Linked DNA regions of Homo sapiens: all the other regions are linked to region 1. Evidence: fine-mapped expression QTL. A gene starts in region 1. Each other region holds a variant in brackets. All regions are shown on one strand. Distances are between the middles of the regions.

Evidence for each region.
Region 2: its variant is fine-mapped to the expression of GPR137B in whole blood (INTERVAL, PIP 0.92).
Region 3: its variant is fine-mapped to the expression of GPR137B in whole blood (TOPMed, PIP above 0.99).
Region 4: its variant is fine-mapped to the expression of GPR137B in whole blood (TOPMed, PIP above 0.99).
Region 5: its variant is fine-mapped to the expression of GPR137B in whole blood (TOPMed, PIP above 0.99).
Region 6: its variant is fine-mapped to the expression of GPR137B in whole blood (INTERVAL, PIP above 0.99).

Annotation. Positions count from the first base shown.
Region 1 is chr1:236,140,209-236,144,296 of GRCh38, reverse strand. GPR137B (G protein-coupled receptor 137B) reads right to left here and starts at 1,758. Exons shown (of 7, transcript NM_003272.4): 1 at 1,261-1,758. The coding sequence starts at 1,674. RefSeq lists an enhancer at 1,031-1,534 and silencers at 1,500-1,769, 1,840-2,019.
Region 2 is chr1:236,216,439-236,220,526 of GRCh38, reverse strand. ERO1B (endoplasmic reticulum oxidoreductase 1 beta) reads left to right here. Exons shown (of 16, transcript NM_019891.4): 16 at 1,951-4,088. The coding sequence ends at 2,011. Among named protein-coding and RNA genes, the nearest start is that of ERO1B, 63 kb to the left of the region's middle. The variant A/G (reference allele first, on the strand shown) is at 1,508.
Region 3 is chr1:236,205,901-236,209,988 of GRCh38, reverse strand. It overlaps GPR137B (G protein-coupled receptor 137B), which reads right to left. Exons shown (of 7, transcript NM_003272.4): 7 at 1,082-1,939. The coding sequence ends at 1,831. Among named protein-coding and RNA genes, the nearest start is that of GPR137B, 65 kb to the right of the region's middle. The variant C/A (reference allele first, on the strand shown) is at 1,913.
Region 4 is chr1:236,103,332-236,107,419 of GRCh38, reverse strand. No RefSeq gene overlaps it. Among named protein-coding and RNA genes, the nearest start is that of GPR137B, 37 kb to the left of the region's middle. The variant CTCTTA/A (reference allele first, on the strand shown) is at 1,704.
Region 5 is chr1:235,982,411-235,986,498 of GRCh38, reverse strand. NID1 (nidogen 1) reads left to right here. Exons shown (of 20, transcript NM_002508.3): 15 at 994-1,120. Among named protein-coding and RNA genes, the nearest start is that of LINC02768, 12 kb to the right of the region's middle. The variant G/A (reference allele first, on the strand shown) is at 2,139.
Region 6 is chr1:236,279,259-236,283,346 of GRCh38, reverse strand. It overlaps ERO1B (endoplasmic reticulum oxidoreductase 1 beta), which reads left to right and starts at 1,389. Exons shown (of 16, transcript NM_019891.4): 1 at 1,389-1,665. The coding sequence starts at 1,564. RefSeq lists silencers at 1,045-1,634, 1,675-1,724 and an enhancer at 1,795-1,994. The variant C/AGGGCCGGGCC (reference allele first, on the strand shown) is at 1,768.

The DNA.
Region 1 (4,088 bases):
ACTACAGGCGGGCACTACCACACCCAGCTAATTTTTGTACATTTTGTAGAGAGGAAGTTTCGCCATGTTGCCCAGGCCGGTCTCAAACTCAGGGACACAAGCGATCCTCCCGCCTCCGCCTCCACAATGCTGGGATGACAGGCATGCGCCACCGCATACGGCCTCTTTCTTTTTTTAAATAAGTGACTTTTTCTCAAAAAAAAAAAAAAAGACACTTAAAAGGAATGAGATGCCTGCTTGCACAGGGTTTCTGCCCATCCGACAGTTCTGAAATTACCCTCACCAGGTGACACCGTTGACGCCTTCCCCTTCGGCAGAGTCCTAGTGAAAATGGACATCTTAGTGCTTGGAAAGCTAATGGGAATCAGAGATGATGATGACGATGATGACGGCGGCACCGCGTTATTAAACCTTTGTGCAACGCTATACAAAGTATTTGCAAAGTGCTCAACAATTACTGCACTTTCATTAAGTCAACCATCAGCAGTAAAGCAGCAGCCAAGTTAATTCACATACTCTCCCATTAGCTTATTTAATAATATGCCCCATAAAGTGATTTTTGTGTGGCTGTAAAAGAGCCCCAGTCAGCTTTTATGGCCTTTTCTTGGGGCCTCTCAGATGAGCTCAGACAGTAACTCTGATGAGCGGCAGCAGCTCGGAGCTGGGTGTTACCCCAGCCTGCTGTTTAGCAATCCGGTGGAATGAGTTAGTAAGCCGCAGTTCTGTAGAGCTCCTAAGCCGGAGGTTCAAAACATCTCATCAAAACCAACATGGTCTCACCCTGCCAACGCTCAAAACAGCAGTGTCAGGCCCAAATCTGGAGGCCAACGTGCAGAAGACCTTTCCAGGCCGGGAGTTAGGTGCCTGGGGAGGCAGGGCAAATTCTAGAGTTCAGGCCTCCCTTGGGGGCACACCTTCCATCCGTACTAACTGGCGTGTGCAGGCGCTGCTGCTTCGCGCTGCGCACGGAGAAGCGCCCCGAATCCACCGCACGATGCGGAGCCAGGGGCAGCGAGTGAGCGGCGGCCTCCAGCCCTCCCCTGCCTTCTCCTTGCCCCTTTTGGGAATGGCAGGGGGTTTCCTATGACAAATGCCCGCAAACAGGACAGGGTTCGGACGACCCCAGAGCCGGCGCCTTCTCCCTACACTCTCAGCCCTAGGGCCGGACCCGCCCCCGCGGCTGCCATCGCCCCTGCCTCGGGCGCCCCGCGGGGACCACCCCGCCAGGTGAGCGCCTCCAGGAGCCTCTCTGAAACTCACCTGCGTGAAGTACAAGTTCATCAGCGTGAGGGTGAAAAACTGCAGGCACACAGGGAAGCAGTAGAGCAGCCAGAAGACGAAGGGGCTGAGCGAATTGGCCGCCACGAAGTCTTTGAAGTAGAAGGAGAAGAGGACGGTCCGCAGGGAGGCCCAGAAGAGGCAGAGAAAGAGGAAGACGCTCTGGTAGCTGAGCCGCTTGTGGCGGTAACGCAGCACCAGCCAGAGCTGCACGTAGATGAACACGAAGAGCAGCGCGTAGAACACGGTGTAGACGACGGTGAGGCCAAGCTTCACGTAGGGGGGCACGGCCGGGGTCAGCGTGGGCGGCAGCGAGTCGTTGCGGGCTGGGTCCCACGGCGGGGTCTCCATCGGGCCGGGGGCGCTGCCGCGCGGCCGGGGACGCTCGGGCCTCATCGGGGCTCACGGCCGCCGCCGCCCCCGCGGGGGTCTCCGCGCATCGCGCTCAGCCTGCAGCCCCGAGACTGGAGGAAAGAAAACAAGCCGCACTTCCTCCCCCGGCACCACATGATTCACTGGGACGGCCTTTGTCTGCGATTGGCAGCGCCGCGCCCGCCGCCCCCGCGCGCCGACCGGCCCCGCGCGCCCCCGCCCCGGCCCGCGCGCCCCCGCCCCGGCCCGCGCGCCCCGGCCCGCCCTCCCCCGGGCACCGCGCGCCTTCGCCCCGCGAACCCCGGCCCGCCCTATCCTCGCCACCGCGCGCTCCCGCAGTGCGCGCCCCCAGAGCCGCACGCCTCCTCCCGGCCCCCTCCCCATCCCCGGGGCCGCGCGCTCCCAGACTGCGGGCCCCCAGAGCCCCGCGTCTCTTCCCCCCTTCCCGCCCCCTCCCCATCCCAGGGGCCGCGCGCTACCCGTCCCCGGCCCCTTCCCCATCCCCGGGGCCGCGCGCTCCCGCACTGCGCGCCCCCAGAACCGCGCGCCTCCTCCCCGGTCCCGGCACCGCGCCGCGCGCCCCCAAAACTTCCCAGCCGCGCCCCGCGCCTCGGGGGATCGCACTCGTGGCCTCGCGCATTCTGCTGCTGATTGCTTGTTTTGCAGAAGTTAATTCCTTTATTTAAAAACAAATTTAAAAAAAAAACTTTACAAGTCCTTTCCGTCCCCCCCTTTAAAAATAAAACTTTACGACTCTGTGGCTATGAACTGGCCGGCGTCTGGAATGATGTTTATTTCTAAATGCAGACATGCCAAAGACAGGGTTCGTATTTTTGAGGTCAAATTTGTATACTGAGTGAGGAAATAGACGGTGCCTGCGGCTGCTGCCTCCTCTGGGATGCAAGCTGGGCTGTTTTCTCCCGGAGAGCCTCACGCGCTCCCAGCGCCTCACCTCCCAGCGATGTAGCCGGTGCCGGGAGGCGCGCGGGCCGCGGGTCAGTGGATGGAGCCCACTGGGCTTCAGAGAGAAGTGGGGCAGCTGACGGCACACGGCCCCCCTTGTCCGATCCAACCCATGCCGAAGGAGGGTCTGTCCCCGCCACCCGAGAGCCCTTCTCTTTTGCTTTTGCTGAGCAGCTCGCTCCTCGAGGCTGTACAGCGACTTAGTCTTTGCCCCGGGGCACCACGCCACCCTTGTCTTGGGAGAGCTGGGGAGTGCTCTGGGAAAAGAGGGAAAGCCGGGCGCCCTCTGGAAACATTGCTGGGCAAGCGGTTCTGGTAAACAGAAGAAACTCGGATTTCCGAGGCTCCAGTAATTGTGATTTCTTTTCTTACTCCACTTCGTGCCTAATTGTGTGTTCTTTTTCCAAAAGACGGCCTGGCATATCCAGAATCCACCCTAGCTTTTGCTCAGAATTACTTAGTGGTTACAGCGCTCCCAGCGTATTCCAGGTGGTTCACTGGGGCCAAGTGTGCCTTTGGCGTGGAGCTCCTTTTCCAGTTTTTCTATCCTTTCCCTCTCTCCCTATCGCTATTTCAAGAGGAAATACGGAATTGGGCTCCACGCCTCTGATCTCGTTCCCCTCAATCCCCGTTCTGAACAGCGCAAGTGGAATGATGGAATGATCGCTCTAAAGAACACCTGGCCACTTTACTCCCGTGCTTAAATGCCCTTCCCTTGCTCCTCATAGTTCTGGGGTTAGAGTCTAAACTCCTACCCTAGCTTACCTCCCTGCCTTATCTCTTCCAAGGTGTTAAGCAGTGTTAACACCTCCTGACTCCCCTAGACTAAGAAAATTCTGCCCTTTCCTCCAACAGCTGGTCCTTCCTAGCTATCCATGAGGGTGTAACTTCCTGCAGAGAGCCTCTCCAGAACTCTCCACCCACCAAACTCTCAGGATTAGGCTAGGTGTTTCACCTGTGTGCTTCCCTAATATCCTTGCCTGATTGTTAGTTTCCCCCGCAACACACTTATTTATGTGTCCTTATGATAGAAACTAGGCTTGTTTACCAGTCTCTCCCCTGGCACATTGGAAAAGCATCCGTATACATTTTATTACACTGAAGGAATATTGTTTGTCAACAGAGGTCCAGACTCTGATATTTCTCCCTCCAGTGTGCATGGATTCTACCTCATGATCCAGGAGGGCTACTGGCTCTCCAGACATTGAGTCCACATCCCAGGCCAGCGTTAGGAGGAACAGGGGAAGACTAAAGAGCACTTGTTTTCTCCTGTTTCTGGAGCCTTCCCAGAAAGACCACATAATGCATCCACTTTTAGCTCATTGCTAGGACTTAATTACCCTAGCAAGCTGGCTACAAGAGATTGGGAAACGTAGTTTTAGTCCACGTGGCATTGTACACAGCTGAAAGCCATGGTTCTGTAATTATGGATGAAGGGGCGAATGGATTTAGGAAAAACTAGCATCTTTATCATG
Region 2 (4,088 bases), 76 kb before region 1:
TGTGTGATTGAGAAGGTGATAAAAGAAAATTAAAACCTTCATCTGCTCCTTATTTTTCTTAAATTTTCATTACTATTTTTTTCTTTTCTCACCTTTTTCCTGCACTATGCTCTTTATTTCTGAAGCTCAGAGGTCATTTTTCTTTCACTCATTTCTACATGATTTACTTCTGTATAGAGACATATAATTTGCTTGCTTGTTTATATCACCAGTGGTTTAAAAAATAATTTGAATTTGCCAGCAGAGATACATGTAATGCCAACTGAGGAATACAGAACAGAAGGAAAAGAATCACAGAAAATAATACTATGCTTCCTTGGGGAAAAAGAGAAAAAAGTCAACTTGAGGAAGAATTAAAAAAAAAAAAATAGGGGACTAAGTAATACAAAGATTATTTCTTGGTTTTCTTAACATGTGTTTTAAGTTAAAAAGAAGCAGTTAAATTAAAAACAGATTTATTATATGTCCCCTGCTTTTTTTTTTTTTTTTTTTTTTTTTAAAAGAGATGAGGGTCTCGCTCTGTCATCCAGGCTGGAATGCAGTGGCACAATCATGGCTCACTGCAGCATCCAAATCCTGGGGTCAGGCGTTCCTTCCACTTGAGCTTCCCAAGTAGCTGGGACTACGGACACATGCTATTTTGCCTGGCTAATTAAAAAATTTTTTTTGTAGAGATGGGGGTCTCACTTTGTTGTCCAGTCTGGTCTCAAACACCTGGCTTCAAGTGATTCTCCTGTCTTGGCCTCCCAAAGTGCTGGGATTACAGGCATGAGCCACTGTACCTGGCCATTTCCCATCTTAATAACAAGGATTTCAGCTGTTGCTTCCCTGTATTTAAAGATGACTATGTAGGTTGAGATTTCAGACACAGGATAGATATAGACTATCCATTAACTGGTATTTCATAAAAAATTCAGTCCATCCACTTATGAGGCCTGTAGAAAGATAACACAGGAGATACTGAATGAAATTTAAATAAATTGAAATGAAAAATATTGTAAATAACTTAAGCATCTCTTAAGTCCAAATTAAATTGAGAAAGATGAAAACAATTGAGAATTTCAAAACAATTGAAAATTTCCTTCGATCTCATAAAAAATATTCACAAATGCAGCCTTTCTTGTTTTAGTTCTATATCTAGAGCTTATTACCTTTTATTGTTCCCTAGAGTAATGGACTCAGAATCAGGGGTCCTAAAGTTCTGGAATCCTGGCCTGCCCTTTAGTAGTGGTATGAACTCAGGCAAATCACTGCTTTCCTAGTTTGTTTCCTGATAATGAGATCATATATGTGATGGGCTTAGAACATTGCCTGTCCTCCTAAGTGATTAAGGAATAATTTTTCTTCTATCAAATAGTTAAAGATTTTTCTTCTATCACCCCTGAATTGTACATAGGGATACTTGAGCTTTTAGAATTACTTTTTTATATTTCCCATCCCAGAGTTTTACTTTTTGGCCTGGGCTGAGAAGCACTTCATTTAGTCAGTCAGTAATCATTTACTGAAT[A/G]CTATAAGCATCAATGGGTATGGGGCACAGGAGAGAGACTCAGCAGGAGATGAAATAGAGTCTTTACCCTTAGGGAGCTAACAACATAAGACAAATTAGTGTGTTTGGGGAACATTGAGTAAAGAGCAATCATTTGAAGAGGAATGTGCAAAATAAATTTATTAGACCAATTGTAAATGATTTGAGATTCTTTATTAAGAATTATTCATATCACTGTTCCCATTATTAATCTAATGTCTGTAGATAGTATGAAGTAACAGGCTTCCTTTGCCCCTTCTAAACCAGTCTTAATGAGAACACTAATTTAAACATGGAAGCTTCAGTGTTTGAGGTTTTTTATTTTAGGTTTTGCTTTCAAATTATAGCTTATGTAACAATATCAATAATTTGAAACAGTATGCAACATGTTAGCCTTACTAATAAGCTTTTTCTTTCTTCCATAGGCTTTCTACAAGTATAAGAGACTTACAGAATTTTAAAGTCTTATTACAACACAGTAGGTAATAAAGGCTTTTATGTGTCTAACTAGAGACATAAAGTGACTGTGGAAAGCCTTTTAATTATGGACATTCATCAGAAAGACACTAATCTGACTTCAAGAATTCTGAACTATTAAATAGAAAATTTAAATGCTCACTTGAATATTTATGATTCTTAATAGATTATTATCAACTAGAGATATTTATAAATGAAGTATATACTTTTAAAACATGTAAGTTATACTAATTTTGTGTTTAATTTCATATGTTTTCATGTAATGAAAATTCTATTTTTTTTAGAATTGGTTTTGTTTTTATTCTATTATCCTTTATTTCCAGTTGTCAAACTTTAAATGGCTATGTCTGCATTCTAATAACACTGTTCAGTCTGTTATGGAAAAGGAGAACTAGGGAACAAATGTTGCTCAGGGCTGGTGTCAGTGAGAAAAATTTATCAATGCTTTTTAATGTGTTTTTACCCTTGCCTCACTGTGTGTGTGTCACTTTCTATAATATAAAGAAATACTATAATATTTCTAGAATCTGGAACTGTCACCATGATGAATGGCCCTTTCAATGCATAGTTACAGAAATTCCTGAAGATTCCCCAGGACTTCAATTTCATTGGTTTTTATTTGCAGTTTTTAGTTGCTGTAATTGTTGCTGTTTCCAGTCTAAAGGACCTCCTTTGGTAAAGGTGAACAAGACCTCTCCCCTATGCTACCCAGCCAGATTTTGTGTGTGTAATGGGCTGGCCCAAGAGTGTTCTTTTACTTAGAACTCCTTTTGATTTTGCTTTTCTCTGCCCCTAGAAATTTTAGGGACAAAGACATTTTGGAAATTGTCAGTTACTTTTAGAAAGAAAACACTGCAGAAATATTTAACAGATTACTTCTTGATAAAATTTAAATGGGATTATATGAATTTATAATGCCAATTGAAAATATTATATACACAAAATTTGCTATTTTCACTTAAAGTAAGCATTTTTAAAGGATTTATTTTAGAATACAATCTATGCAATCCTCGAACTCAGTGTGCTTTTCCCTGACAGGATATATAAAAAGGTAGATTAGGTCAACCCTCCTTTAAGCTTACTCTCCCCTCACCTTTTCTTTTCACTGTATATAAACGGTACTTTCTGTGATTCATACCAACAGAGGACTTTCTGTGATTCATACCAACAGTCCTAAACTGTCATTTTCTAAATCTGGGATTTAAAATCTTTAGACAATATTTAAAATCTTGATTTTTTTTAAATGTCAGCAGATACAATTTGGAAGATTGCATCTGTGTAGAAGTAATGCAGGTACAAGATCTAGAGTTTTTCCTTAGACTCTTTAGTCTTTTCTGAATTAAAGAATAAGTGCTCTTAAATCCATATTTTATCCTGTCAAAGTCTGAAATGTGTTCATTGATGATTTGGTGACATCTAAAAAATTGTATTTAGTTGGCTTGGCTCACCCCTCTTAAAAATACTTAGCCATCTCTTGGTGGGATGTGGTGGGGGTATTAAGGTCTCAGAGTTATTTATTTTCTCACCTAATTTCAAACCTTTATAAACTTGGGGTTTTGTTGTTGATGGTGGTAGTATTTTTTGTTAAGTTGTTTAAAAGGCTGACTTGATTGGAGCCTCCTCTACTTTTTCTTGAGGGTTGCAAGTATTGTATGGTGGGGGAGGGGGGCCTTAAGGCAAACTGTCTAAAAAGTGACTATCCAATTAATTTAACTAGTAAATTAGTAAGAATTATTCTTAGTATTCACTCAGAGTTTAAGATGTGAAAAATCTGCACTTTGTTTATCACTCTAAATGTAAAGAACTTTTTGATAGTGTTATTTCACCACTCCCTCAGTTAAAGGCTATTATTTAAACTGTTTACTGGAGAAAATCCTCGCTCATGTCCATTTATTGTTTTTTTCTGTACTGTGATTTGTTTCAAGCTTAGGAAAACTAGTATATTAGAGTATGTTCTAGGAAATTAAAAGATCTGGTTAGAGTAAAAAGTTCTTTTTAAGGTTCTTAACTAATTTTTTCACAACTAAGAAAATAAATGAAGTATTCTTAGGCTGAAATTCATCTTATTTTATCATAAATTAGATTG
Region 3 (4,088 bases), 66 kb before region 1:
TTCCCTTAGCTGACCTAATACTGAAGGACTTCAGGACTTTCTGAAGATGTAACTTAAAGGAGTTTAAAACATGCTGAGTCTGCCTTTAAATTAACTATTAGTAATACAGTGTGACCACAATAATCTGTTAAAGCTATTTAGAATAATAGCTTATAATGTGTTAAGGCAACTTGAATAACAGTGTAGGGTTCACTTCAGTATAGACTTTTCCCTGATAACTACTTTAAATGCTATGTTACCCCAATTTTTTCATGTACTAGAAGACAAGAATGTTGTTATGTAGGATTATGCAGAGTGAAGGTGTTCTATACACATGAAAAGCCCAATGATGATCAATTTGAAACTTGAGATCCCAATTTTAAATACTACCAAAACAATAGTAGACTTCATCTGTGAAATCAATGCCCAGAGATCAGTTATTCCTGAAGATCAAAATGAGAGGAGTCATTTGAAATGGGTTGCATCATGTAGTAGGACTTGTTAATATAAGTTCCTTTTCATTGAACCTTCCCTCTGTCCCCAGATGAGCATTCCTAGGCAGAGAAGAAACGTGCCTTGTTTCTGGTAACAGTACTTCCTCTAGAACCTTATCTCTGTTTTATAGAAAAGCAGAGCATTTAGCCTCCCAATAGGCAGTTTTATGGCTCCAGGATATATATAGTGGAGTTTTTAGAATGGCACTTCCGGTCTGGGAGGCAGTACTTCATAACCTGTTTTTTACTTAAATGAAAGATGACTTACAAGGAATTGTCTGGAACATGGCTGACAGGCATCATGCTACAGCATATTGCAGTGCTATTGCCATTTTTAAATGTGCAGCTTCCAATAGGCTCTTTACAGAGCTATTTAGAAGGGCATTATTTTAAATATAGTTGGAGATTACGGAAAAAACTATTAGGATTCCACATAGTCTTAGCTCAACGGCTTGGGGTATTTGTTATTAATGCCCTTTATGGACCCTCTTATTTTCTCCTTGAATGTAATGAACATTCAGTGAGTTCGGAAAGGGGTGTATTCTTGATGTGGCCCTGAGGTAATGCATATTAGATTTCATTAGGCTGAAAAAAAACTATGCAGAATCTGTGAACATAGCAGAGGAGGTTTAATAGGATAAGTCAGCTACATTTTTAATGTTATCAACTTATCATTAATGTGTATACATTAGCGCCCTACTGAAAGGAAGTACCAGTCTTTGGGCAAAACTTAAGAGATTCCTTGAGGAACCTACGGCCTGAACCTTAAAAAAAAAATCTCTAAAGACCTTACAGTCTGCTGCTTTACCATTTCATTTTAATTATCAACACTGGAGTTGCAATTGGCTAAGTTGTCAACTGTATTTTAGGAGTCTACCAATGTGGCACTCAGAATCGGAGTGACCATCAGTGACCTAAAGAGGTAAGATTTGTGGAATACTTTAGTCCAAAAGCTTTAAAAAACTATTAGACCATATATTCTATATTTTTAAAGTGAATTATGCATAAAAGTCTGTGCAAACTACAACATGATTGCAGTAACATTCTCAAGAAAAAAAAACCCTAGTATACTTTAGCATTATTATTTAAGTTATACAAAATACATCTTTATAAAAGTACAGATTTTCTTTAAAAAGTTTAAATTATACCCACTGAAATAGCAAGGCTCCCTCTTTAGTACTAAAATAAGGGTTTATCAGTCTACATTATTGCTTATTCCTATGGGGCCATTGGAAACCTGTAACAAATAAAAATCAAGTTCTATTTCTTAAGGAAAAGTGCCCTAAAAATTCAGCTGTCACTATGCTTTTCTGAAGCTTTTCATCTGAGGAATCGTCCATAAAACTGTTAACTGATGCTACCCAAGGCTTGGTTTGTCAGGATCCAAAGTTGAGTCTTGCAAAGTTCCTGCTTGTGCCAGGAAGCTGTTAGTTTGTTGT[C/A]CCCAATCATAGTAATCTGGAGCAAAACTTAAAAAGAAAAAAATATTTCAGTGACTTGAAACATTATATAGTATGTATGACATAGTCTAGTTTAGGTAGACAGAGCTGAGATTTTTGTGTAAACTATAGATAACTCTAAAGTTCTTTTAAATGGCTCTTAAAGTCCATTTTCCCACAAAACCATGCTACACACAGGGCTGAAATGCCCACCGACAACTCTACTGAACTCTTTAGAGCACAGAGTATACAGCATGACTAGAGAACCCAGCCAGTCACTATGCATAGGAAATGTTTTCAGCAACAAACTGCATCTGAATCCTAACATGGAGTACAGCTCACAACCTGTGGTGGTGTCTTTGGACAAGTAACTTCTATGCCTCAATTTCCTCATCTTAGAATGGGAGTAATATTAGTAACTACGTCGTGGGCCTATTGTGGGGACTGAGTTAACATCTGTAAAGTGCTTAGAACAGTGTCTAATATATAGTTAATTCTCAATACACGTAAGTCGTTTTCATTATAATTATGTTCCTCTATGTAGTAGAAAGGGGGTCTTGTCTTCACCATATCGGTAGTGAGGACTCCCTCAGCTCTAAGTCATTTCTGGCAGGTGAGAGGGTGGGACAGCTCTAGCAGAATATGGGTTTAAAGGGGAAAGCAACTAATAGGAGATGCAGTGGGGTAACTGGAAAAGAACAGTTTTAAGGAAGAGGTGGAGCTCAGAATCTGAGTGACCCAAAGGACAGCTTTTGACTTCAAGAAGTCCTTCTTGTTTGTTGGCTTGCTTCCAGCTTACGTTCTTTACATCTGCTGGCTCAGCGCATTGGGCAGCTTTCTTCTTTTTTCTCAGCGACAATCTTTTATCCTATCTGACCAGGATTTCTCTGCTCCCCGATCACTGAGAAAGCATGTATTCTCCCAGCTTTTCTTCAGTACTTCTGTCCCTAAAACAAGGACTCTTTTCAGAGCTCTCTTAAAAAGTTTTCTAAAGACTTTCACTGTTACTAACAAGGAGTAAAAAGGCAAGCATATATTTTTTATCATTTCATCCCAGAGGGAAAAAAGTTGTAAAGTTGTTAATGCTAAGTCTTTAATCTTACAAAAGATTACATAAGATAACCTTTCACTTTCTAAGAAGCTCCCCTTTCCCAGGAACAGGATGGGGGTCCTGAGAGGACAAGCAGAGAGAAGACAGGCTTGGCAGGCACTATGTCAGCCCTTTTGGCTCCTCTCACCCCTGCTGGCCTCACCGTCTCAGAGCCACAGGCTGAAAGGGGAAACATGATAGTCATCGGGTAGTGGAGTATGGCTGAGCACAGCAGGCTGAGGAAAAGGGAAGGGAATCCCAATAGCAACTACCCTTCCTGTTTGCAGACCATGCCCATGCTGAGGTAAGCAAAACTTGGAATCCTGGGGTGGATCTCTGCTATGGTTGCAATTTCAGGTGCTTCCCTCTTTTTATTTGCCTTCCCAATTCACTGAAGATTAGGCGATGGCAGCGGACTGGTAGTTCATGTATTGTCTTACACCCTCTATGTATGCTGCTTTGAACTCTCAGTATTTAACTGCCCTTTCCACATTTTCTGGGCCAGATCCGCATGTAGATTCAAGGAAGGAGACTCCTGCTATTAAAACTCACGTGAAAGTATAACATAAGCGTAGGTGAGACTAAGAGACAGGGTACTTATATACAAACTGTTTACATAGTATGGTGATTCAGAAAACAAATTTGAACAAAACTGCCTGAGTTAGAATTGTAGCCTGATCACTTGCTAGCTGTGTGACCTTGGACAAGTTACCTACCCTCTAGATACCTCAGTTTCATCTGTATTATGAGGCTAATAATAGTACTGACCTCTCAGGACTGTTAAGACTAAATGAGTTGATATTTGTGAATCTCTTAGAACAGTGTCTGATACAGAGTAGATGCTATAGAAGTATTTATTAAATAAGTATTCATGAAAATTGAGACCAAATAAATACCCTTCATGTAAATGAAATTTTAAATTAAGAACTGACATCATTCAAATTTGAAAACTTGGTCCTTTATAATGTATAATTTATTCTAATAAATAAATACTACTGCATTTACTCTCTAGCTTTAGAACATGTGATTAAAGATATCATGTTCCATTGAGTGATTCCATAGACAAGTGCTGTATTTCCCTCTTGGAGA
Region 4 (4,088 bases), 37 kb after region 1:
GTGGATGAAAAACGTTTCAGTCTACCTCAAATTTAAAAAGCAATTTTCTGATTCTGGGAATCATGGCTTGGAGGCATTGTGATTCACCCTTGCAAATTTCTGAGAAATTAGTCGGTAGAGAGCAGAAAGCAAACGTGAGAAGATATAATTAAAGAGGCCAGATAGGGATAAAGGGCTTATTTACATCAAGAGTCTTTCAAAGAAAAGAGAAACCAAGCAGTCAGTTGAATGTTAAAAAAAAAAAAAAAAATTAGAAACAAGGCAAAGACAAATGACCATACCAGAGGAAGCAGATACATCAAAAAGTCAGAAAGATAATGAAAGATGAGAATCTCATTGTAGAGTATACAGGTTTAGATTAATTATCAAAAGCTCCGCACACACATTTGGAGAGAAAAAAGAGAATGCAAATTCAGAGAAAACTCAAAGTCCTCAGTTATTTCCTTCCCATCTCCCTCAGCCTCAGTTTCCCCATCTTATGAAACCAGATGACCTGTAAGGCTCCTTTCATATCCATATTTGTAATTCTACAAAATAAATAGCTGCATGAAGATCTTTTACTTCTCAGTTTTTATCTCCAAAATTTCGTAGCCAATTTTTGTAGAGAAAATAAAAATTACATATGAGCAAGAAAGGCTAATTAAAATAATCTTACCACCTAGAGATAGCCACTGTGAATATCTTTATGTATATTCTTCCCTATTCATATAGGCATACATAGAAATAATTTTGTATAAATTTTATTATGGCCTTTTTTTTTTTTTTTGAGATGGAGTCTCGCTCTGTCGCCCAGGCTGGAGTGCAGTAGCGCCATCTCGGGTCACTGCAGGCTCCGCCCCCCGGGTTCACGCCATTCTCCTGCCTCAGCCAAATATTGCAAGGATGTTTTCTTGTCTTGGTTTCCTTTCCACACCATTGTCTGTGACCGCTGCCAGGTATTTTAGTCTAATGAAAGTATCGGTATAATATTAGTTGCAGTGAAAATGTGTGTCCAGATTGGAAAAGATGAAGAAAGCTGAGAAAAACAACATTTTTCCTTGCATGATGCCTTCTACTTTACAAAAGACTTGTATAAAAGCTTTGTATGGGAGGCCGAGGCGGGCGGGTCACGAGGTCAGGAGATCGAGACCACGGTGAAACCCCGTCTCTACTAAAAATGCAAAAAAAATTAGCCGGGCGTGGTGGTGGGCGCCCGTAGTCCCAGCTAGCTACTCGGGAGGCTGACGCAGGAGAATGGCATGAACCCAGGAGGCGGAGCTTGCAGTGAGCCGAGATTGCGCCAGTGCACTCCACCCAGCCTGGGTGACAGAGCAAGACTCCATCTCAAAAAAAAAAAACCAAAAAAAAAAAACAACTTTGTAATCAGCCGGGTGCAGTGGCTCACACCTGTAATCCCAGCACTTTGCGAGGCCCAGGCAGGCGGATCATTTGAGGTCAGGAGTTGGAGACCAGCCTGGCCAACACGGCGAAACCCCATCTCTACTAAAACTACAAAAATTAGCTGGGTGTGGTGATGCATGCCTGTAGTCCCAGCTACTTGGGAGGCTGAGGCAGGAGAATCACTTGAACCCTGGAGACAGAGGTTGCAGTGAGCCAAGATCACGCCTCTGCATTCCAGCCTGGGCGACAGAGTGAGACTCCATCTCAAAAAAAAAAAAAAAAAAAAAAAAAGCTTTGTAATCTACAAAGTGTTTTTACATCTT[CTCTTA/A]AGACTGCCCAACTAGCAGCGTCTAGCATATGGGTAGTGTCAATAAGTGTTATTAAATAAATGGGAAATCAAACAAATATGCATTATCATATGTATCCTTATGAAACTGGGATTTGGTAGGCCTCATTCTCATAATTTTATGAATGTTTTAAAGCTGCATCTATTACCTTGATAAAATCCATTATAATTTACATAGTATCCACACAGACCGATCTCATTTAAGCCTCCCAGCCACTCTGTAACTAACTAGGGTAGATAGCATCAGTCTCATTAAAGAGAGGCAGAGGCTGAGGTGGAGATAATCAGGGTCAGATAGTCAATCAGCGGAAGAGCTTGACCTTAGACTCAAACCCATGACACTTTCAACTGCTTCCCGACTGTGACCAAATGTCCCGCCCCACCTTTATTTAAGCAGTTTGTGCTATAGTGAGGCAGAGTCACCAGCATGCAGGTAAATGTTTAAAGTTCAGCTCTGGGGGAGTGGAGGGAGCCCTGATTTGTGGAGTTCGCTGATTTCTCTGGTGTGAATACTGCCACATGGCGGATTTGAAACTACTGACACAACGTCATGGTGTCATTGTGTAGAGACGTGCACAATCAGCTCAAAGGTGCTAGCTGGCTCCAACGCATCCCTGGGTGGAATGAACTTTCTTTCCACCTGATCGTTAATTCCTGGAGGCCAGGAACCACATCTCTTTGCAGTTTTCACTGTGCTATGCACACAGACGGCAGTGCATCAGCGTTCGGGCTCAACATCAGGGTTCAGCCTGGGTTTCCCATTCTCTGGTTTCCTCACCTGCCAGCCCTCTTCCCCTGGACCTGGGGAAGTACTTGGAGACAATCCTGCCCCCTTTACCATTTCCCTTTCCTTCCTCTCCATTCATGTCCCGGTCACAGCCTGAGGCAGAGTCATGGGCCCAGTGCAAGAAGAAAGGCCATGGGAACCTTAGGATCTCGTGGGGTTTTGTTTGTTTGGCTTTTTGTTTGTTTGTTTGTTGAGACAGGGTCTTACTCTATTGCCCAGGCTGGAATGCAGTGGCATAATCACAGCTCACTGCAGCTTTGACCTCTACGGCTCAAGCACACCACTATGTCTGGCTAATTTTTTTAATTTAAAATTTTGTTCTAGAGACAAGGCCTCGCCATGTTGCCCAGGCTGTTGGATCTCATGCTTTGTGGTGTTTTTTGTTTGTTTGTTTTTGAGATGGAGGCTCGCTCTGTCGCCCAGGCTGGAGTGATCCAGCAAGCTCACTGCAAGCTCCACCTCCCGGGTTCAGGCCATTCTCCTGCCTCAGCCTCCCGAGTAGCTGGGACTACAGGCGCCTGCAACCACGCCCGGCTAATTTTTTGTATTTTTAGTAGAGACGAGGTTTCACCGTGTTAGCCAGGACGATCTCGATCTCCTGACCTCGTGATCAGCCCGCCTCGGCCTCCCAAAGTGTTGGAATTACAGGCGTGAGCCACCGCGCCAGGCCGCTTTGTGGTCTTTTAAGACCAAGCTTAGAGTCTTCTTCCTGTCCTGGAGTTCCGGCACTCACCTTCTCAAGAAGCTTGGGCAGCTGCTTCCATGGGGGCCAGTGGGAGGAAGAGAGGGAGCAGATGGGAGACGGCTCTGACCCTCAGTACCGCAGGGCCGTTGCTTCAAAACTGAACTGGCACAAAACCCATCAACTGTTTGGAAACCAGGATTCCTGGCTTCTGGTTTTACTGCCCAGGGCTACAACTCTTGGGGCTATTTTTCTTGCCAGACATCTTACTGGGATTTTCTGCTGTGGAGAGCACCTCGTGCTGGTCTGCGCTGATAAAGAAATGTCATTTTCTGGAGGGTTGGTTGATGTGCGGATCTTGAAACAACGAAGAGCGCGCAGGGAGGCGGAGAAAAGACAGACTTTGGCGCCATCTACTGGAAACTTCTGTTTCTGCATGATGTGGATGAATTGGATAAAACTGACAAAATGGAAATTGTATGTATATTCTGTTCTTTGATACATGATTGATGTCGAAAATCTCTTATAAGAAGAAATATAGAAAACATATATTTAATGAATCATGAGTTAAATTCTAACTTCTCCTCTACTAAAACTTCTATCAAATCTGCTGTCAGGCAAAAATGGTTGAATTTTCATTCTACTCCAACCCACCCTCCCTTACAAATACTGTGCTAATATTCAGCAACATAGCAAGGACTAGAGAAGGGACAACAGCCAAAACAAAGGCTGCGCAAGTCCACTGGCCTGAAAATCAAGTCCAGAGAAAAGGGAAAGTGATTCTACCTGCAAACCAACCCAGCCCCTTGTCTGAGGAGGGGGTGGACAGGTACCTCCAGCAACTTCTAAAATCAAGTGACCACAGCAAAACGGAAACAAGAAAAGATGCACCA
Region 5 (4,088 bases), 160 kb after region 1:
ATTCATTGTGGAATCCTGCATATTTAAAAATGTTTATCCTTATATATTTTCTGGTTTTTTTTTTTGATGCTGTCACAATTATTAAGGTTTATTTTCTATATTTTGCTAGTATATAGAAAAATAATTTTATATTGACTTTGTATCTTGCATCCTTGCTAGATTCACTTTTGATTATAGCAGTTTTATAGATTCCCCATGACTTTCTACATAAATAACCATATTATCTTAGAATAGAGTAATTTTACTTCTTCAATATGTATGCCTTTTATTTCTTTTTCTTTATCACCTTCAAGTAGGCAAAGATTTCTTAGTATTCAAAAAGCATTAGCCATAAAGGGAAAAAATAATAAATTAGACTTACTAAACATCAAAAACTTTTGCTCTTCCAAACACTATTAAGAAAATGAAAGAGCAAACTACATACTGAGAAGAAATAATGGGTGGGTGCAGTGGCTGGTGCTGGTAATCCCAGCACTTTGGGAGGCTGAGTCAGATGGCTTGCTTGAGCCAGGAGTTTAAGACCAGAGTGGGCAAGACAGTGAGACTCTGTTGCCACAAAAAATTTTAAGAAATGAGCTAGGCATGGTGGCACATGCCTGTAGTCCCAGCTACTTGAGAGTCTGAGGGCGAGGATCACTCGAGTTCAGGAGGTTGAGGCTGCAGTGAGCAGTAATCACGCCACTACACTCCAGCCTGGGCAACAGAGACCCTGTCTCAAAAAATACATATTTATGCATATATATACACACACACACACACACACACACACACACAAATTCCTATACATATAGATGTGCATATATGTGTATATGACAGGAGTTTTTTCTGAAATATACGAACAACTCCTACAACTCAATAATAAAAATTTTTAAATGAACAAAACACTTGACACTTCATTACAAAAGATATCCAAATGCCTGTAGGCACGCAAAAAGATTCTCACTATCAGATGCTTGTAGATGGACCATTCTAACCACTGGTCTTCACATCCAGGCTAAAGTCATCATTGGACTGGCCTTTGACTGCGTGGACAAGATGGTTTACTGGACGGACATCACTGAGCCTTCCATTGGGAGAGCTAGTCTACATGGTGGAGAGCCAACCACCATCATTAGACAAGGTAAGTAAGCAAATATCATTTTTCCTTTTTGGTTTTGCTTCTAGCAGCCAAAGTGGCCATGTATGCCAGAGAAGAACAGCAAATGAAGCCAAACTTTCACAAACATTTCTCAGTCTTTTGTTGCATTACTACGATAAAGTGTGTAAAGTTTAGGCACGTTCTACTTTTTTTTTTCTTTTTTTTTTTGAGACAGAGTCTCACTCTGTCACCCAGGCTGGAGTGCAGTGGCGTGATCTTGGCTCACTGCAAGCTCTGCCTCCTGGGTTCACGCCATTCTCCTGCCTCAGCCTCTCGAGTAGCTGGGACTAAAGTCGCCCGCCACCATGCCTGGCTAATTTTTTGTATTTTTTTTTAGTAGAGACAGGGTTTCACCGTGTTAGCCAGAATGGTCTCTATCTCCTGACCTCGTGATCCGCCCACCTCGGCCTCCCAAAGTGCTGGGATTACAGGTGTGAGCCACGGCGCCCGGCAGGCACAATCTACTTTTCAGTGTTCAACCTCAATTCCTCAATTGAGGAAATTCCTCATTAAGGATGCCAATTTCAACCAATGACTCTGTGCTTTGTTTTTCATGCCTACCTTCAACAAATCAAGACTGTTTTACATGGGTATGATTTATCTAGTTGAAAGACCATTACAACAAAAATCCAAAGGCCTCTAAAAATTCCACTGTGCTGAAATGGTCAAGTATTACATGTTGCTTAATTCAGCGACTCATCAACTGACTTGGGAATATTTTTGCTCCTATGGCATTGTCATGCTGATGATATTTGTTCTGTGGAGTCACCTTGCGTTCTCTGCAAAATATTCACATCAAAGATACATCTTTAAAATAGAGCAGCCTCATTTTGTATTTCTTTTTACTTGGCACTGAATGTAGTTTTTTCTATTTTCAATGGAATGTTTCCCTCACAATTGATATTCTAGAAGATTTCCTGTGCCTGTGGAACAACTCCCGAAGCATTTTTTCCCTTCTTTGTTGCCTTCAGTAAAGATGATGCGGCAGGAATGAAGCTGA[G/A]GTTGAATTAACTATGTCTGGCTTTGGACATAGACCCTGAACCCTTTTCTGGAAGCCAACAGGCTATTTAAATCATGTCTTCCAGTTTTCATGCTTTGGTTTAGTGAAAAACAGTTTGAAAATGCCTATCTCCGTGTGTTAAAAATGTTATTGTTATTATCTATGATTTCATTTTAAAACCCAGTGGAAGAGGGGAATAGGTCATTGTTTGCTATTTCCTGTTGCTTTTGGAGCTCATAACCATCCAAGAACGCTGTAAGCACAGTAAGAAGCATTCCAAGCAAAAGCCTAGTTACTGTGAAAACACAGAATTAAACCAAAATGTGATCTTTGTAGAAGAAAGATCACTGGGAATAATTTTCTTTTTTTTTTTTTTAAGAGAGAAAGAAGCTTCCAGTTATCTCCTTAGCATGGTACAGGTTGGTGCTTCCCTAGTGAGTGAGAGTGACAGTTAGGTATCATTTTCATTTCTTCCTTATTTCATAACAGCCCGGATCCCAGGCTTTCTTTCTTTCCTTGAGTTACAGACCCAACCAAGTATCTCTAAAAAGTATCATATCTTTGAGGTAAGCAGTAAGGAATACTTCTTCCTCGGACTGCACATTGAAGGATAAGATTATCCAGACCTTTCCCTTGGAAGAGTAGCTCATAAAGAAGTATTTTGAGTTGAGGGAGAGGGGGTTGGTTGCTCTTGGGTTTGAGATCGGGACCAAGGCTGGTTCTAAGGAGACAATATGCACGGAGCTCATGGAGCTTCCTCCAGGTGCCTCGCAAAGATGCTCTCACAGAGCAGCCTATATTCTCTGTTTTATTTGCGTATATCTGAGTGGCTCTTGTCTCTCACACAGGATGTGCTCATTCCAAATATACTCCAGAATGACTTATTCTGTTTCTATCTGAAAGCCAGAAGGGACCTTTGGAGGTCAGTCTCACTGTCCCTGTTCATCTAGGGACATGGGAAATATTTTAATATTTTAAAAATCTCTACTTTGTGTTTAGATAATAAAGATCTTGTTCAAGTGGGGTTTCTAATTCTCAATAAACTTCCTCTGGCGGGCTTTCTTTCTGGGGGCTCTGATGTGTCCAGCATCCAAGGTCACCATCATATTAGGGCTCTGGCGAAGGCTAATGCAAAGGGGGCTGAGGGTCTGCACTGCTTGTATGTCCACAGAAGAACACAGTATTGGAGCCAGGTGTGGTGGCTCATGCCTGTAATCCCAACACTTTGGGAGGCCAAGGCGGGGGATCACTTGAGGTCAGGAGTTTGAGACCAGCCTGGCCAACATGGTGAAACCCTGTCTCTACTAAAAATACAAAAATTAGCCGGGCATGGTGGCACGCACCTGTAATCCCAGCTACTCGGGAGGCTGAGGCAAAAGAATCATTTGAACTCAGGAGGTGGAGGTTTGCAGTGAGCTGAGATGGCACCACTGCACTCCAGCCTGAGCAACAGAATGAGACTCTGTCAAAAACAAAACAAAACAAAAAAACCCACAGTATTGGAATGGTTGCCTCATACCCCAGATCCCTCAGGTAGGGTAGCCCCTTCTCCTTCCTGCTTATACTCCAGTCATACTAAATGACCTTCATTCCTTTAATCAGTAGAAGGGAAAGAGTCCTAAGTGATATCAATAAAACACAATCGTTATTATTAATTTAAAAAAACTATATAATAAAACACCAATGTAATCTTCAGCTTCCAGTAAAGTTAGATGGGTGCTGAGGGTTTGCAGTGAAGGTTCATGTTACCCAGTGGCAACTCCTGGCTTGAAAATCAGTTGCTATAACCCAGTAAAGACTGGGGTGTTATTTGTAATCACTGACACCCCTTCTTTGTACCCCTTATACTTGTATGAAAGTAATAGCAGCTATGGTTTCTTGAAAGTATTATTTCAATGACCTTTATCCCCGATAGCTAATGAACAAGATAGAACTATTTTTCCATTCCCT
Region 6 (4,088 bases), 140 kb before region 1:
AAAGGTATAAACCACTATGTGGTAGGCTGATTAATGACCCTCTATTTATAAATCCTCATCCTAATCTCTGGAACCTGTGAATATGTTATCCTATATGGCAAAAGGGACTGTGCAGATGTGATCAAGTTGAGGATTTTGAGATAGGATGGTCTGTAACCAATGTAATCACAAGGGTCCTTATACAAGAGAGACAGAAGAGTTAGGGTCACAAGAGAAGGCATGTGACGAGGGAAGCAGAGAGAGTGAAGGAGATGTGAAGTCATGAGGTAAGGAATGCAGGTGGCCTCTGGAAGCTGGAAAAGGTAAGGAAACACATTGTCCCTGAGAGCCTCCAAAAGGAACACAGCCCTACAGGTCCATTTTGGACACCTGATCTCCAGTACTATAAGGTAATGAATTTCTTTTGTTGTATGCAACTAAATGTGTGATAGTTTCTTACAGCATCAATGAGAAACTAATACACGCTACATAAACACAAGGGAGATGTATTACTCGTTTTGTAGAAATCAAAGGCATTAATAAAACTAATAGCAGTTACCATTTATTGAGTGCTTCCTAGGTGCTAGGCACTATACTCAGCTCTTTCTGTATCTAATCTTATGTAGCCCTAGAACAAGATATGAGGTGGGAATTAAGGCCCAATAACTAGCTAGAATGTTTTAGAGTTGGGATCTGCGCCCAATCTATGTCACTCTAAGTTTTTTTTTGTTTTACCCCATCCCCATATTTCATCATAAGCCTTTGGGTTTGTCTTCATTCTTTAGCATGCGTTATACTCGCACGTGTCAACCTAGGAGTCGGGCTGGGGCGGGGCAGGAGATGACATCCACATCTAGGGTGCATGAAATTAAAAAAGAGCCGAAGCCATCTCTACAAGTCACAGGTAGCTTACATAGGCACCCACAGCAGATGTGAGGCTACAGAAAAATGAATGAGACAAAGAATACGCTTCAGACCGAAAGTCAAAGATCCCGCACCGTCCGTTCCTAACTCGCCCGCGTACTGGGTGAATCCTAGAGCCTGGCGTCTGCGAGGACTCCAGGAGCGACAGCAGGGACCGACGCAGAGAGGTCCTCAGCCTGGTTTCCCGGAGAAGAGGTCGCCCCGCTTCCCCCGCCCGCACCCCCCGGTGTTTTGGAGGCCCGCGTGGTCCCGCCTCATTGGCCGCCGCGGAGCCCGAGGCCTCGGGGAGGCGGGGCGGCCTTCGCAGTTGTAGTTCCCGAGTCCTCTCGTTCAGCGGCTCCGCCTTCCTGCCGCGGCGCCTAGGCGACCGCCCAGGACCACAACTCCCACAAGGCCCCGCGCTTGGGGGCGTGGCCGAGGAGCCAAGCGAGCCGGGGGCGGGGCCGCCTGGGGGATGAAGTGGGGGCGCTCGCCTTTCCTGCCTCACTCGCAGCTGCCGGGTGTTGGGGAAAGAGTCGCCTGCCTCCGGACTGGAGTGCAGACCTCTGACCCTGGAGTCGCTCGGCCGCTGGGAACCGTCCCCTTGGGTCGTCGCCTGGGCCGCCCGTCGTTCCCCGGCCCCGAGGGGTCCGGCTGGCCGCGGTGTGGGTAGAGGTCAGCATGAGCCAAGGGGTCCGCCGGGCAGGCGCTGGGCAGGGGGTAGCGGCCGCGGTGCAGCTGCTGGTCACCCTGAGCTTCCTGCGGAGCGTCGTCGAGGCGCAGGTAAGCCCGAGTGATAGCGGGCCGGGAACCCCCGGCCGAACACCCGCGGCCGCTACACACGGGCCGCGGCTGTGACGCGGGGAGGGCCGGGCAGGGCCGGGC[C/AGGGCCGGGCC]AGAAAAGAGGTGATTTCTGGCGAGCAGAAAACCCGGGGAGCAGAGACCTGACCGTCCAGTGCGGGAAACATCTGCGAACCGCCCGCAGGGTGGGGGGACGGCGACACTCCGGGTAATGGCAGTCAAAAGAGGAAGATGGTGACGGTCCCCCTGAGCTGTTTTCGTTTTTTCCTCTCGGATGTGTTAAGCGGCTGGGAGTGTGGCGGGAGATGGGACGGGCATGAACCACCTCGGCTGTCTTGCGAAGGGAGCGAGCGCCCAGAGAAACGGTGACGTCCTTCCCTTCAGGAGTTAGTGAGGGAGGGAGACTGAGAGTTGGGGGCACTCCGCAGACCCCCGAGGCCCCGCCAGGCGCAGGGGATTGGGAGGGGGCAAGACTTCACTCGAACTGTCGGACTAGAGCTTTCTGGGCTTTTACTCTTCCTCGAGCACCTTCCCTTGCTCAAGATTGCTTTATTTTTACCCAGCTGAGCTGTGTCTGCCAAGTGGCATCGCCAGGTAAGTCCCAATACGAGACTGGGGGGGTCTGAGTGGGGCGTTGTGGCTCGTGGATGGAGGCTCTGGCTCTGGCAGTCGTGAGGTGCTGGCTGGTTGTTGATGTGAAGCGATGATTACAAGTGTTCTCAGTGTGCTAGAAATCTGAGGCTTAGCTGACCAGATCCTTTCGCCTTCAGAGAGGTGTTTGCTTCTATTCAGTAGAATTTGAATTGATTGCCAGGTGCTGCTGCTTGTTGTCTGCACCTGCTGCAAGGAGGCAGCACTGCTGAGGGCCAAAAAAATAAAACGAAGGTCTCAGGTGGCCTGATGATGAGGGGAGATGTCATTTGAAGCAATTAGTGCTCATCCAAGAAAAATTGAAGGTGACTCTGAGTGTAACCGTGAAAACATGTTTTTCTGAATTGAGTCACTTTATTTCATGGTTTTATGGTGCCCTGCACTAAATCCCAGAGTGCCTGAATAGTCCGTTTGTGTCTGTGTTTGAACCATAAAAATAAAAGGGGCAAATTTTTGGTATTGGGGAACATGTTAAAATGCAGATTCTCTGGCCCTACCTCCACATGTATTGATTGGATCTGGAATATGGCCCAGATATCAGCATTTTAAACAAACATTGCAAGTACAGTATAACTGTAGCAAAGTTATCTTTTGACTACCTCTTGGACCTCACTTGGAAAACACTGAGATGGAATAGATAGTGGTAATCTGGGCAGACTTACTAAAGTAAATTTTCCAAATTGTCTTTGGCAAAATTATTTTCTAGTCACTAGTTGAGTGTTTCTGAGTGAAATTTACAATTCGATATTTTTCTGAAATGAGAGTTCCCATTTTCTCTTTTTATATAGCACATATTAATTTATGCTTATCTGTCTAGAAACTTCATTTTAAATTTTTTTCATTTACCACTAATTATGTGTAATTAATGTTTTATAATTTCACCTGTATTTTTAAAATTCTTGTGTAGAGATGGGGACTATGTTATTAGGCTGATCTTCAACTCCTGGCCTCCAGCGAGCCTCTTACTTTGGCTTCCCAGGTGCTGGGATTACAGGTGTGAGCCACTGTACCTGGCCTGCCCCTGTACTTTTAATTTCATTATATCCAAATGAATATAAATATAGTCCAACAGTTAAAGATTTGTGAATATTTGAAGTAGCATTGTGCCAAACAGTCTTCCAAGTGAATATATTTGGTTTTTGTTGCCAGCAGTACTTACTTTCTTTTTTTTTTTTTTTTTGAGATAGTGTCTCACTCTGTTGGCCAGGCTGGATGCAATGGCATGTGTTGGCTCACTGCAACCTCTGCCTCACAGGTTCAAGCAATTCTGTCTGCCTCAGCTTCCCAAGTAGCTGGGATTACAGGTGCTTGCCACCGCGCCTGGCTAATTTTTGTGTGTGTGTTTTTTTTTTTTTTCCCAGTAGACAGGGTTTTGCCATGTTGGCCGAGCTGGTCTTGAACTCCTGACCTAAGGTGATCCGCCTGCCTCGGCCTCCCAAAGTGCTGGGATTACAGGCGTGAGCCACCGCGCCCAGGCCGCCAGCAGTACTTTCTACTGTGCTGTTTTTTTTTTTTTTTTGAGATGGAGTCTCGCTCTGTGTCACCCAGACTGGAGTGCGGTGGCGCCATCTTGGCTCAGTGCAGCCTCCACCTCCTGGGTTCAAGTGATTCTTCTGTCTCAGCCTCCCGAGTAACTGGGACTATAGGTGTGTGCCACCACACACGGCTAATTTTGTATTTTTTAGTAGAGATGAGGTTTCACCATGTTGGCCAGGCTGGTCTCGAACTCCTGACCATAGGTAATCCACCCGCCTTGGCCTCCCAA